4 separate regions of the Homo sapiens genome follow, and all the other regions are linked to region 1. The links come from fine-mapping of genetic effects on gene expression. A gene starts in region 1. Each other region holds a variant in brackets. All regions are shown on one strand. Distances are between the middles of the regions.

What was found. PIP is the estimated chance that this variant, and not a neighbour inherited with it, causes the effect. A credible set is the group of variants that fine-mapping cannot tell apart.
Region 2: its variant is the best candidate, but not a certain one, in a credible set for the expression of RECQL in pancreas (GTEx, PIP 0.53).
Region 3: its variant is the best candidate, but not a certain one, in a credible set for the expression of RECQL in lung (TOPMed, PIP 0.74).
Region 4: its variant is the best candidate, but not a certain one, in a credible set for the expression of RECQL in whole blood (INTERVAL, PIP 0.69).

Annotation. Positions count from the first base shown.
Region 1 is chr12:21,500,001-21,502,770 of GRCh38, forward strand. RECQL (RecQ like helicase) reads right to left here and starts at 1,635. Exons shown (of 15, transcript NM_002907.4): 1 at 1,170-1,635. It overlaps GOLT1B (golgi transport 1B), which reads left to right and starts at 1,789. Exons shown (of 5, transcript NM_016072.5): 1 at 1,789-1,948. The coding sequence starts at 1,924. RefSeq lists enhancers at 919-988, 1,009-1,058, 1,099-1,288, 1,429-1,488, 1,439-2,146 and 1 more.
Region 2 is chr12:21,558,963-21,561,462 of GRCh38, forward strand. It overlaps GYS2 (glycogen synthase 2), which reads right to left. Exons shown (of 16, transcript NM_021957.4): 8 at 1,424-1,530; 9 at 689-748; 10 at 129-207. Among named protein-coding and RNA genes, the nearest start is that of SPX, 34 kb to the left of the region's middle. RefSeq lists an enhancer at 1-161. The variant T/A (reference allele first, on the strand shown) is at 1,412.
Region 3 is chr12:21,475,405-21,477,904 of GRCh38, forward strand. RECQL (RecQ like helicase) reads right to left here. Exons shown (of 15, transcript NM_002907.4): 7 at 2,399-2,500; 8 at 1,507-1,588; 9 at 272-420; 10 at 64-181. Among named protein-coding and RNA genes, the nearest start is that of RECQL, 25 kb to the right of the region's middle. The variant T/C (reference allele first, on the strand shown) is at 975.
Region 4 is chr12:21,452,852-21,455,351 of GRCh38, forward strand. It overlaps PYROXD1 (pyridine nucleotide-disulphide oxidoreductase domain 1), which reads left to right. Exons shown (of 12, transcript NM_024854.5): 6 at 2,281-2,441. Among named protein-coding and RNA genes, the nearest start is that of PYROXD1, 16 kb to the left of the region's middle. The variant CTA/C (reference allele first, on the strand shown) is at 1,167.

The DNA of each region.
Region 1 (2,770 bases):
TGTTAGGCAAAGTTGCATATGCTGTTCCTCCAAGCCTCTTTCCCTACCTGTAAAACTGGGAGGATGGCAATCTTATAAATAAGTTGGATAGATTCAAATGTACCAGATTAAGCAAAATACATCAACATAAATAATAAAATTAATCATCTAACATTTTATTGAGCCCTTGCGTTAAAGAATTACAATATAAGCCCAATCTTAAAAGAGAAACTGGTATTCTACAGAAAAGCTAGATTTTCTAAGTTAGAGGTGGGGGGAGGGGAAAATGGTTTGTAATGATTTCTAAGTATCTATGAATGACTAAAACCTAAGCATGCATATGGACAAGTGGAAAATGGGGCTGGAGAGTAGAAACTTTAAATTCCCCATAATCCTAAAAACACCTCTTCTATCTCTCTAATATGGACATTTTCTAAAACTAAGATGCTCTCCAAAAGTCACTTCTGCAACACCTATCCTTAGACTGCTGACCTTACGCCCTTTCTACACAGAATTCTGAAGCCACCACTAGGCCGGAAAGATAGGCTGACTCTTTTTTGCCTTGCTAAAGAATGTGGAATAACCACACCATTAAAAGAAGGCTAAATAGGAGAGTAAACCAAGGATTTCTAATTCTTGATCTATACAAACATCTCTTCACGTAATGAAAATGTAACATTCCTTCCATAGACTGTAAGGTCCTTTAGCAGGGCTGGGGTTCAATCTCTTCACCTTTGTATCCGCACAGCCCAGGAAAATGCCTTGATGTAGTGAGGGCTCAGGTTTGCTAAGGTAGCAGGGGCTGTTTCTACCCTTATGAAAAGACACAGTCTATATCCAATTCTCCCCCACGATTTTAAATGACTCCTTTGATTATGCGGTTAAAAGACTGCTCCTTCCCAAAATGATGTGATTTAACAGCAAAAGATATCTCAACATAAAATGTATCCAGAAATTGAACTACAGCAGGTCTGTCACTCAGCAGTATAAGCTAGGCATCCACAGGAAGAATGTTACAGGGTGACAGCCAGTCATCAATGTTGGAGGAAACGCCACTGAGATACCATAGGCTAAATCCTCTCTCTCCCCGCCACCTGCATTTAGAGGCAATAGTAATTTAATATTAATAACGCCCGCCCTTCCGCTACTGTGAAGCAGGGGGTGGAAGAAGCATCCCCAGTAGTATTTACCAACAAATGGCAGCTGCTAATAAACAGGCTTTGGTGGCCAATCCTCCTGCATGGAAAAGAATGGGGAGATCAGAAGACCGGTCAGCAGGCGAACGTGCCCCTAAAGGCCCGAGTTCTCAGAGCAGGGCAGTGATTAACTTTCCGGTTTCTCCTCCGCCAATGTGTGGGCGAAAGGAAGTGATCCGCTACAGACCGGCCTCGCCCTGCAGCAGGAAAGGGAAGGATGAAACAAAAAGCGCACACCCTTGACCCTTCAAAGCTGTAACAGTAGTTATCCCAGAGCCTCTCCCCACCGAGAAGCCCGGTCTAACTCTCCGGTGTTTGACTGTCCGGTGTCCGACTGTCCTGTGTCCGACTCTCCGATCTCCGACTCTCGGATCTCCGACACCAAAGCACCCAGGCCTCGAGCAGATCTTTCCGCTACTCGGGAGTAAAATCTTCCCGCCAGCCAGCTGAGAGCATCCACCCTTCCGGGTCGGTCCGTTCAGCCAATCACAGATAACTCCCTTCTCTAATTGGTCAAGGGGTGTGGTCACCATGCGCGTCACCGAACAACATTACGAGTTATTGGTTGAGATTGGAAGCAGGTTTCGCCAATAGGAAGCGCTCTTAAAGCGGCAGTGAGGGTGGCTGCGTGTTTCCGGAAGACGTGGCGGCTCTCGCCTGGGCTGTTTCCCGGCTTCATTTCTCCCGACTCAGCTTCCCACCCTGGGCTTTCCGAGGTGCTGTCGCCGCTGTCCCCACCACTGCAGCCATGATCTCCTTAACGGACACGCAGAGTAAGCACCTGCTCCGGGGCCCCCGCCTCGAGCCGCGCACACCCATCGCCCGGCTGGGTCTCGCCCCTCCGCCGGGGTCAATGAATGAAGCTCTGGGTTGGGGGCGGTGGCCTGCGAGACAGAGCTAGGGCTGCTGGGACCCTAAGGGGCTGCCTTCGGGATGCCGGGGCTAGACTTGGACTGGCGGACCTGACCTGGGAGAAGAGTCTGTGGGGCAGGGTGGGACGCCCTATGTTGGGAGGGGAGCTTTAGCCCAGAGTCTGTCTCATTCCAGGGTCGCGCTGATCTCCTCATCCCCAGTGAGATGGGCGCTTTGTTCTAGGGGCTTGCCACAAGAGAAAGTTTGCGTGGTGCCCGCGGCCCACTCTCGGGATCGTTTATGCGCATGACACACTTCGGGTCCTCTACAAGTCCCTGGCTGGCTGGTTATTTGGGAGGCGGTATTTTAAATGTCACCTACAGTAGGCTCTTTTTGAAAATGTCCTTACGCTTAAATGTGGCATTTTGAATATTCGCTTTTTGCCAGTACTGTAAGCAACCTTTTAGAAGTCTCTTGAAACATTCTCACTTTTCTACCTGCTAAAGTTTCAAGCAGTAGAGAAAAGCCACTTTGTGTGCCATTAAAGGATATATTTCGTTAGTATTGTATATTGTGCTTTGTGGCTTGTTTTATTATTTTAGCATCGCTCTCTGCCTGCCACAGAGTTCTCCAGGCCTATTTCATCTCTAAAGCTAGCATTGATATCGGTTTCCTTTTCTTTCATTATAATATTTCCACTTTCCTACTGCTTTTTGTTAATATTAATAATTTTTGTATTTATG
Region 2 (2,500 bases), 59 kb after region 1:
ATGTAAGAATGTCTTTTCTAGCCTCAGGTCTGAAAATGTTCCAAATTAGCACATTCCAATAAATTAAAATACTGATTAGATAGAATTTAATAACTATGGGACATAGTGGGTGCTTTTTTCCTTATTACCTGAGTTGAAAAGATGGCTCTTTTCATAATTGTTAGATCATCTCGATCTAAAATATCGTTCAGGTCAGGAATTTCTCCTCTGCAGGGAAAAAATGTTAATAACAAAAATAAAAACAGCTGGCACTAATTCAGTGATTCCTAAGCATCAGATTATATATTATATATTTCATGTATTTTAATAAATAATGTTGATTATTCTATTAAGTAAATGTGTTCACATAGACTTAATATTTAAGTACATATTTAATACACATTGTCAATATATATTTTGAATTAAAATCTCATGAAGTCTCTCTCAGCTTCAGACTGACATATCAACCCTTAATGAGTTCATCATTGAATTAGAACTTGCCTGCATATAAATGTATTCTTATTTGTACAGCTATTTACAAGTTTTGTCAAATGAAGGGTAAAATACTGTTCACATGACATAACACATTTTCAAAGGTTATTAATTCCTTGATATTTGGAACAAAATTAATAAGTTATGATGTCTAAATTGTTAAATTTGAATAGTGAAACCTTAAGTGATTGAAGTAGAAAGCATTTCAAGCACCTACCTTAATAATGCATCATAGAGTTTTTTTCCAAACTTTTCCTTCACAGAATGTGCAACATCCCTGTTTGAAACAGAAAGATTTATCATTTAAACAGTATGACAATGTTTAATCTTTATTTGTCACGATAATGCTATTGTTTTGTTGACATTCTTTGAAATTACATTCTTTGAAATTACAGGTATCTTTTTTATAGTCTCTTCTATTATTTTACTACTTGCCAATTCAGCTTAAGTTGACATCTCCAGAGCTGAGGCAACAGAACACCATGGCCAGCACAAAGAGCTTAAAATTTTTTTGCTTCATGATGATTGGAACAGGATAGAGAGCAGAGAGGGGGAGTAGATGAAGGTATAGGTGTAACAAGACGGGAATTCGTTGATCATTGTTGAATCTGAACTATGAGTATACAGGGAGTCATATTACTAAGCTTTTTACTTGACATGTTCTTAGAATTTCACAATAGAAAGTTAAAAAATGTTTGACTCATCTTTAAAGATTTCTACAGGGCCTTGTTCCTTCAATGGTAGCTCATTCCAAAATTTGTATAACACCTATAATGTTATAACCATTACGATAACCTAAAATAGTAGCACGATGAAAAGAGAGTCAAGTATTATTTGTCTGTAATAATCTTAAGGAAAAAACAAAGTTCAAGGCGATACATGAGATGTCATTCACTTAAAAGAAATCTTTTCACATTTATTGCTAGAGAACATTCACAGG[T/A]TGTGAGATTACCACAGCTGTTTTCGCACTGCTTGTCCTTTCAGGGTTTCCACGTTGAAATTATTTGTCTTGGCAGGCATAATGAAAAACACCATCACTGTGATGTCACTTTTATGCATCTGATGAGGAATTAGAAAACACAGAGTCAACTATCAAAGATTTTTAAAAAGTATGATAGATGGAACTTAAACATTGAAAAGTAGAGTTTTAAAATATCAGTAGATAAAAGGTATAGTTATTTATGTTTCACAGAGAGATTATATTCACCTTCCTGAGACTTTTTCAGAAATTTTAATTAAAATCAAAATAAATTTTAAATTTTCAGTCTGTACTTGCCAATAAACAAATTGACTTTCAATCAGTATTTGTCAGTTAACAATTTGAAAATTCAAACAAAATATTTTCGTGCCTTTGACCATCTAGAATAGATAACAATTGCTATTGATGACACTGTGCTTTTCTGTGGTTAAAAAAATAGCATGAATGAGAGCTAATATTACAAGACCAAAATTAGTTCTTTAAAATTTCAGATTGGAAGTTTAATGAAGATTTAAGCTTTGGTAAAAGCTAAAATAATATTTCAATTTTTTTGCTTATTCATGTTGATTGATGACAGATAGATTATTTTTACTTTTCCGCTAAATGTCTTGATTCTCATGATGTTGTATTTTGGTTTTTAGCCCTAAAGCAAAGAAACAAGCACATGACGAGCACTTTTGGGATAGCAGACACTGTGCTGGGTGCTTTAAATATACTACTAATAATCATGTACAATAGGCATTTCTCTCCTCATTTTATTAATGTCAAAAGAAAGGAATGAGAGGTTAAATATTTTCTCTGAGTCCTATAACAGGTTAGTGCCAAAGCTGACATTTAAACTGCTGGCTTAGCATCTCTCAAAAGGAAATGACTTGTTAAGAAGCTGTAAGAATGAAAGCATAAACTCACTTAAAATCATGAACCTCTATGAAGGTTTATGTGTTCTGGAAATGACTGACTAGCTCCAGAGTGTGGGGCACTTTACCGTCTAGTATGCAGCCTCGGCCCTCTAGGGCCTGACATTTTATTAGGGAAAGCTACTGAAGGCAT
Region 3 (2,500 bases), 25 kb before region 1:
TTTATCATGTATTTTTTGGAAAAGCTTTCTAAAAATTTACTTCTGGATTTGAGTCCTACATACCTGCACGTCCACTCTCTTGGTAATAATTTTCCATGGATTTACTCATTGAATGATGGATAACAAACCTCACATCTGGCTTATCAATTCCCATACCAAATGCAACAGTTGCCACTACTACCTGAAATATTTTAACATTTTATCAGTTAATTAAATCAAGTTTAAATATTTTAAAGGTAAATTAGGCTTCTATGGAAGATATAGACCTAACCTGAATTTCATTGGCTGACCATTTTCTATGAACTGTGGTCTTATCTTCTGGCTCCAAATTGGCATGGTAAGCACCTGCATGAATTCCCAGATTCTGCAAACTAACCGTAACTTGTTCAGAGTCTTTCTGAGAAAAACAATATATGATTCCTGCAGTAAAATATGTGCATTTGTTAGATAGATATGGCATATTCCTGGAAGATGGTTTTCAACACACACATTCAGGACATTGATTAATACAATGCACAGAAGGAAAAAAAGAATTATGAAAAATTTCAAGGCCTTGTGCATATATTGACATTTTGGTATAATTCCAGATTTGAGCACCAGCTTCCTTTAAAGCAGAAATGAGCCTGAGCCATCAGTTTTTGTTCCTGTTATCTCTTTTCTCTCTTTAACTTTATCTCCCACTAAACAGTATTTCTCAAACTGATGTCTGTAAGATGCTAACAAATGTGCTATGAATGCAGTGTTCTCCAGATTAATTTTGGGTTAATTTAGATTAATTTGCATGCAAATTAATTTGGAGAACATTGCATTCAACAAAGTTAAATGGGTGTCTCTCTTTATTTTCAGGGATGGTCAGAGCTTCTAGTTTGCTGATACACCCTGTGAACATCCAGGCAGAATAAATACCTGCAACCTTTCTCAAATTCATTTGACCCTAGAACTCCTTTTACCCAGGACTACCTCCTGAAAATCTA[T/C]AGAACAGTTTAAAATGCTACTTTCACACAAATTCTTTGCTTCAGTAACATTTGCTTAGTCATTAAACCCAGAAAACCATGTATATATACTCACAACTCGATCTGTGCTTAATCTATTCAGTATGTACTACTGGATTTATTTATTGCTTTAACGTGTCCTTTACTGTAAGGGAGTATATTTTCTATCCCTTTAGAATATCAGTTGCTTAATCCACTATTTTGTACACAGTGGATACATACTAAATATGTGCTGTTGATAATTAACATTAAGTCATCAGGTCTATTCTAAAGCAAGTGTAAATAAGCAAAAATAAATCAGGCAATTTGACGACTCATAATCTATGGCATAAGCAAATGTCACACCCAATTTCTAAGATCAAGTGAATTAATTTTATCACGTATTTTCAAGTATCTTCTGCTATACATTAATTTTTTTTGGTGTTATTCAGTTATCAGTATAATTATCAATATGATATGAAGTCACTTTTTGAAAGTTATCTCTGTCTCCAAAGTTGGTTTGTTTTTACATTACCTGATTGCCCTTTGTATCTCCCATTAATGAGCTTTACAATATCCTCAATAAAATCTTCAGTGTTTGAGGGCTTCTGCCGAACCTAAAAAAAACTTAACTTATTAAAAAGTAAATGAATGAGTACCATCCAAGTGGCTGTCTATGTACAACTTTCAGGATGCAGTTCTTTCATGACCATAGTGTTTTTTTTCCTATTACTCTTTCACTTACTCACAGGATTCAACCCATCTGACTCATCTGTTCCTCCTCCCAGACTCTTCTTGATCTTTATTTTTTTAATTTACCAGAGAAGAGCAAGCACATGAGCAGTGAATAACTTGCAAGGATGCAGACTTTTTTATTTTGCGATGCTACTTTTATAAAAACAAACCGTAACATAAATAACTCTTTAATGAAAACTCAGAAAAATATTAAATCTATTCTTAAAAGGGTTTAGAAAGAAAGAAAAGACAGCTGTTAGGTTATTTGATTTTCAAGTTTATCAAATAAAATTCAAATAGAATTGGCAAATCTTTAATGGCATATGAATACTTCTATCACTTAGTAATTAATTTGAACAGAGATGTTATTAGGGTCCTTAGTATCACTCCATCCTTTCTCTCCATCTTTATACAAAAAAGAACATACAGAAATTTAACAAAGATATATGACTTACTCATATGTTTTATAAAAAGTATCACCTAGCAGGTGTCTTCCATTTAATCTAACAAAGGTTTATGTAGCAAAAGATACATGAATGAAGCCCTAATCACAGAATCTACTTATAATTACCTCCTAATGTTAAAAATTTTTGTAAGTACTTAACTGCTCATGTAAATAAACATAATAAAAAGGCAGATCCCCTCTGCGTAATTCTTCACAAAAGTAAGGAATTGACATAAAAATTACATACCTCATAATATAGATTTGGCCTATTAAAAGAAGCTGTAAAAGTAAAACACTTTTCAATGCACAAAATTTTCTGAGCATCCGTCAAAACGTGATTTGTTGCAGT
Region 4 (2,500 bases), 47 kb before region 1:
AAAATAAGGACTCTGCCAAAGCCATATCTTTGCTCACTTGCATTCAATCCAACTCTCAGACTAGGTTTTTGCCCCTCTTTTAGCGGATGATCTCACCCAGTGGAAGCCTGTAAGAGTTCTTAAATTGCCTGAGTACTATGGGTAACAGTCATTATTGTTATTATGAAGTTTGTGGCATTATATGGAGAAATACAGAGAAAGGGTCAAAACCAAAATGTGGGCCAAGAGGGAAGAGGTATAGATTTATTGTAAATGGGGCTTCAAATCCTTGTGTATAGTATATACATGCCAGATTTTCTCTATCAGCTCTCACCAAAGTATCACTTACTATTATTATAATTGTTATTTACATTTAAAAATTTTATGTTCAAAAATGTTCAGAGTCTTACATTTAATCCTATTCATCATTTTCTTTAAGTTGGAGATTGAAGACTGTATAATTGGATAAAACTCATAGTTTTGTATTTAGTAAGCTCTTCTTTGGTAATTAAAAATGGACCCACATAATGTTATTCTCTGACTTGAGGTCTGCTGCGTGATTAGGTCTTTGTCTCTCGTGAAACTTGGCATACCCATACCCTTTCTACACTGTGTTTCAGTGAAACTAATACTAATGTTCTTCATTATACATTTATTTCAGTTATTATCTGTTTTCTCCTTTCTAAGTGTAAGTTAATCCTTTCCTTTTCAAACAGATACTGTTTTTCATAACTTCACAAAACCGTAATATCTCATTGTCTGCTTCTGTAGAGTCATTTTCAAAATGAAAGCAGTATTTCCCCTCTGTGTGATGATAATCGTCAAACTGTGCATCTTGCTGAGAACATAGTTCAAGTCAGGAAAAGAGGATTAGAAGGTGTCCTAGGAGGTAGAGCAAGTACTGAAGTTTCTTGTGGTTACTTGTAATAACTTTGTCTGCTAGTCAGTCATCAGTATGCTGAAGTGCACTGATAGGTGTTATAGTGTAATATTACTTTAAATTTAAAAATGGTAATATAGAGAAATTCCCAGTTTTTCAAAAAGAAAGCATTACATGATAACTGTATGCCTGTATGTAAATTGAAATACAAACTTTATTACCAAATTTGTGTGTATTCCACTTTCCGCTGGTCAGTAATGCTATATGACCAGAGTAACATAAAATAGAATGTTCACCCAATAATCTT[CTA/C]TGTTTACTGACATAGAAGAGCTGGAAAAACGAAGACTTATTAGGTAAAGCAAGGAGTTCCTTATCACCATATGTTGAAAAGTATGAATATCAAGTGACCTGGATTCAGATGTACTAAACCTTTTTTCGTAATCTGTTTATTGATTAGTCTTGAAAAGTCGTGTAACCTATGTTATATCAGTCTGTGAAATAAAGATGACAATACTTTGTACCGTAAAGAAATGTGAAAAATTAATACCTTAACTTTTTACAGTATTTTATTAGTATCGCAAGTTTAGATAAAATCCTATTATAGTTAGGATGGCCATATATCTTGTTTGTCTGGGATTGTCTCCATTTCCACCAGTTGTACCAAAAATGATTATTAGTAGCAGATAGTATCCCAGGTTAGGTGATAAATTATGTGATCACCTTAATTATAATGGACTTCAGGGACTTTGTGAAAGGAATATTGTTAGGAAAACCACTTCTTAGCATCTAAACCTAGAATAAAATATCACATGCCCATTACCTTACATTAGTGGTAAATAGTAATAGAAGGTGGCTTATATATACCATTTTCATTCTTTCCTTCCTCTAAGATCCTTGATCCTTGATCTTGATCCTTAAGATTTTTAGCTTATAACTCTGATTCTTTCCATTTTCTATCCCTTTCCGTAATGTGCTTTGAAGATATAAAAAGTTGTTACCAAATAAGTGACTGATTCTCAATATTATAGCTATGTGCCATCCATCCATTACTTGATTACACTATAACCAGATTTTTTAAAAAGCACTGCTTACCCCTGGGGGCCATTCATATAATAAGTGTATTGTAGAAATTGAACATTTTCTAATGATGTACACTGTAATGAAATTTTACTTGATATTCAGTACATGTATTTGTCACTTAAAGGTTCTTTCTGTAAACTGCTTCAGATTCTTTTACTATTCAATTTTTAATTCTTAACATCTGTAAAGAACGTTAATATTCCTCTTTATAATCAATCTTTCCCAGTTAGCCTTAAAAATGTATTCCCTACTTTTGCTTCAGGAGATCATTATTTGCAAATGCAAAGATTTTTTACTTAGACTTTTGAAATCACTCTTAGTAACTTTAACATTGTTTTTAGGTATGAAATTGAAGGCTGTGAAGTGATTTGGGCCATTAAAGATAAAGCTATAGGGAATACTTTCTTCGATGCAGGAGCAGCTGAATTCTTGACTTCAAAGCTCATTGCTGAAAAATCAGAGGCTAAAATTGCACATAAAAGAACCAGATATACAACTGAAGGTAAGTGTAGCACCTAGCTCATTAATTCTCATACAAAACTTTTTTAAAACCATATAGAA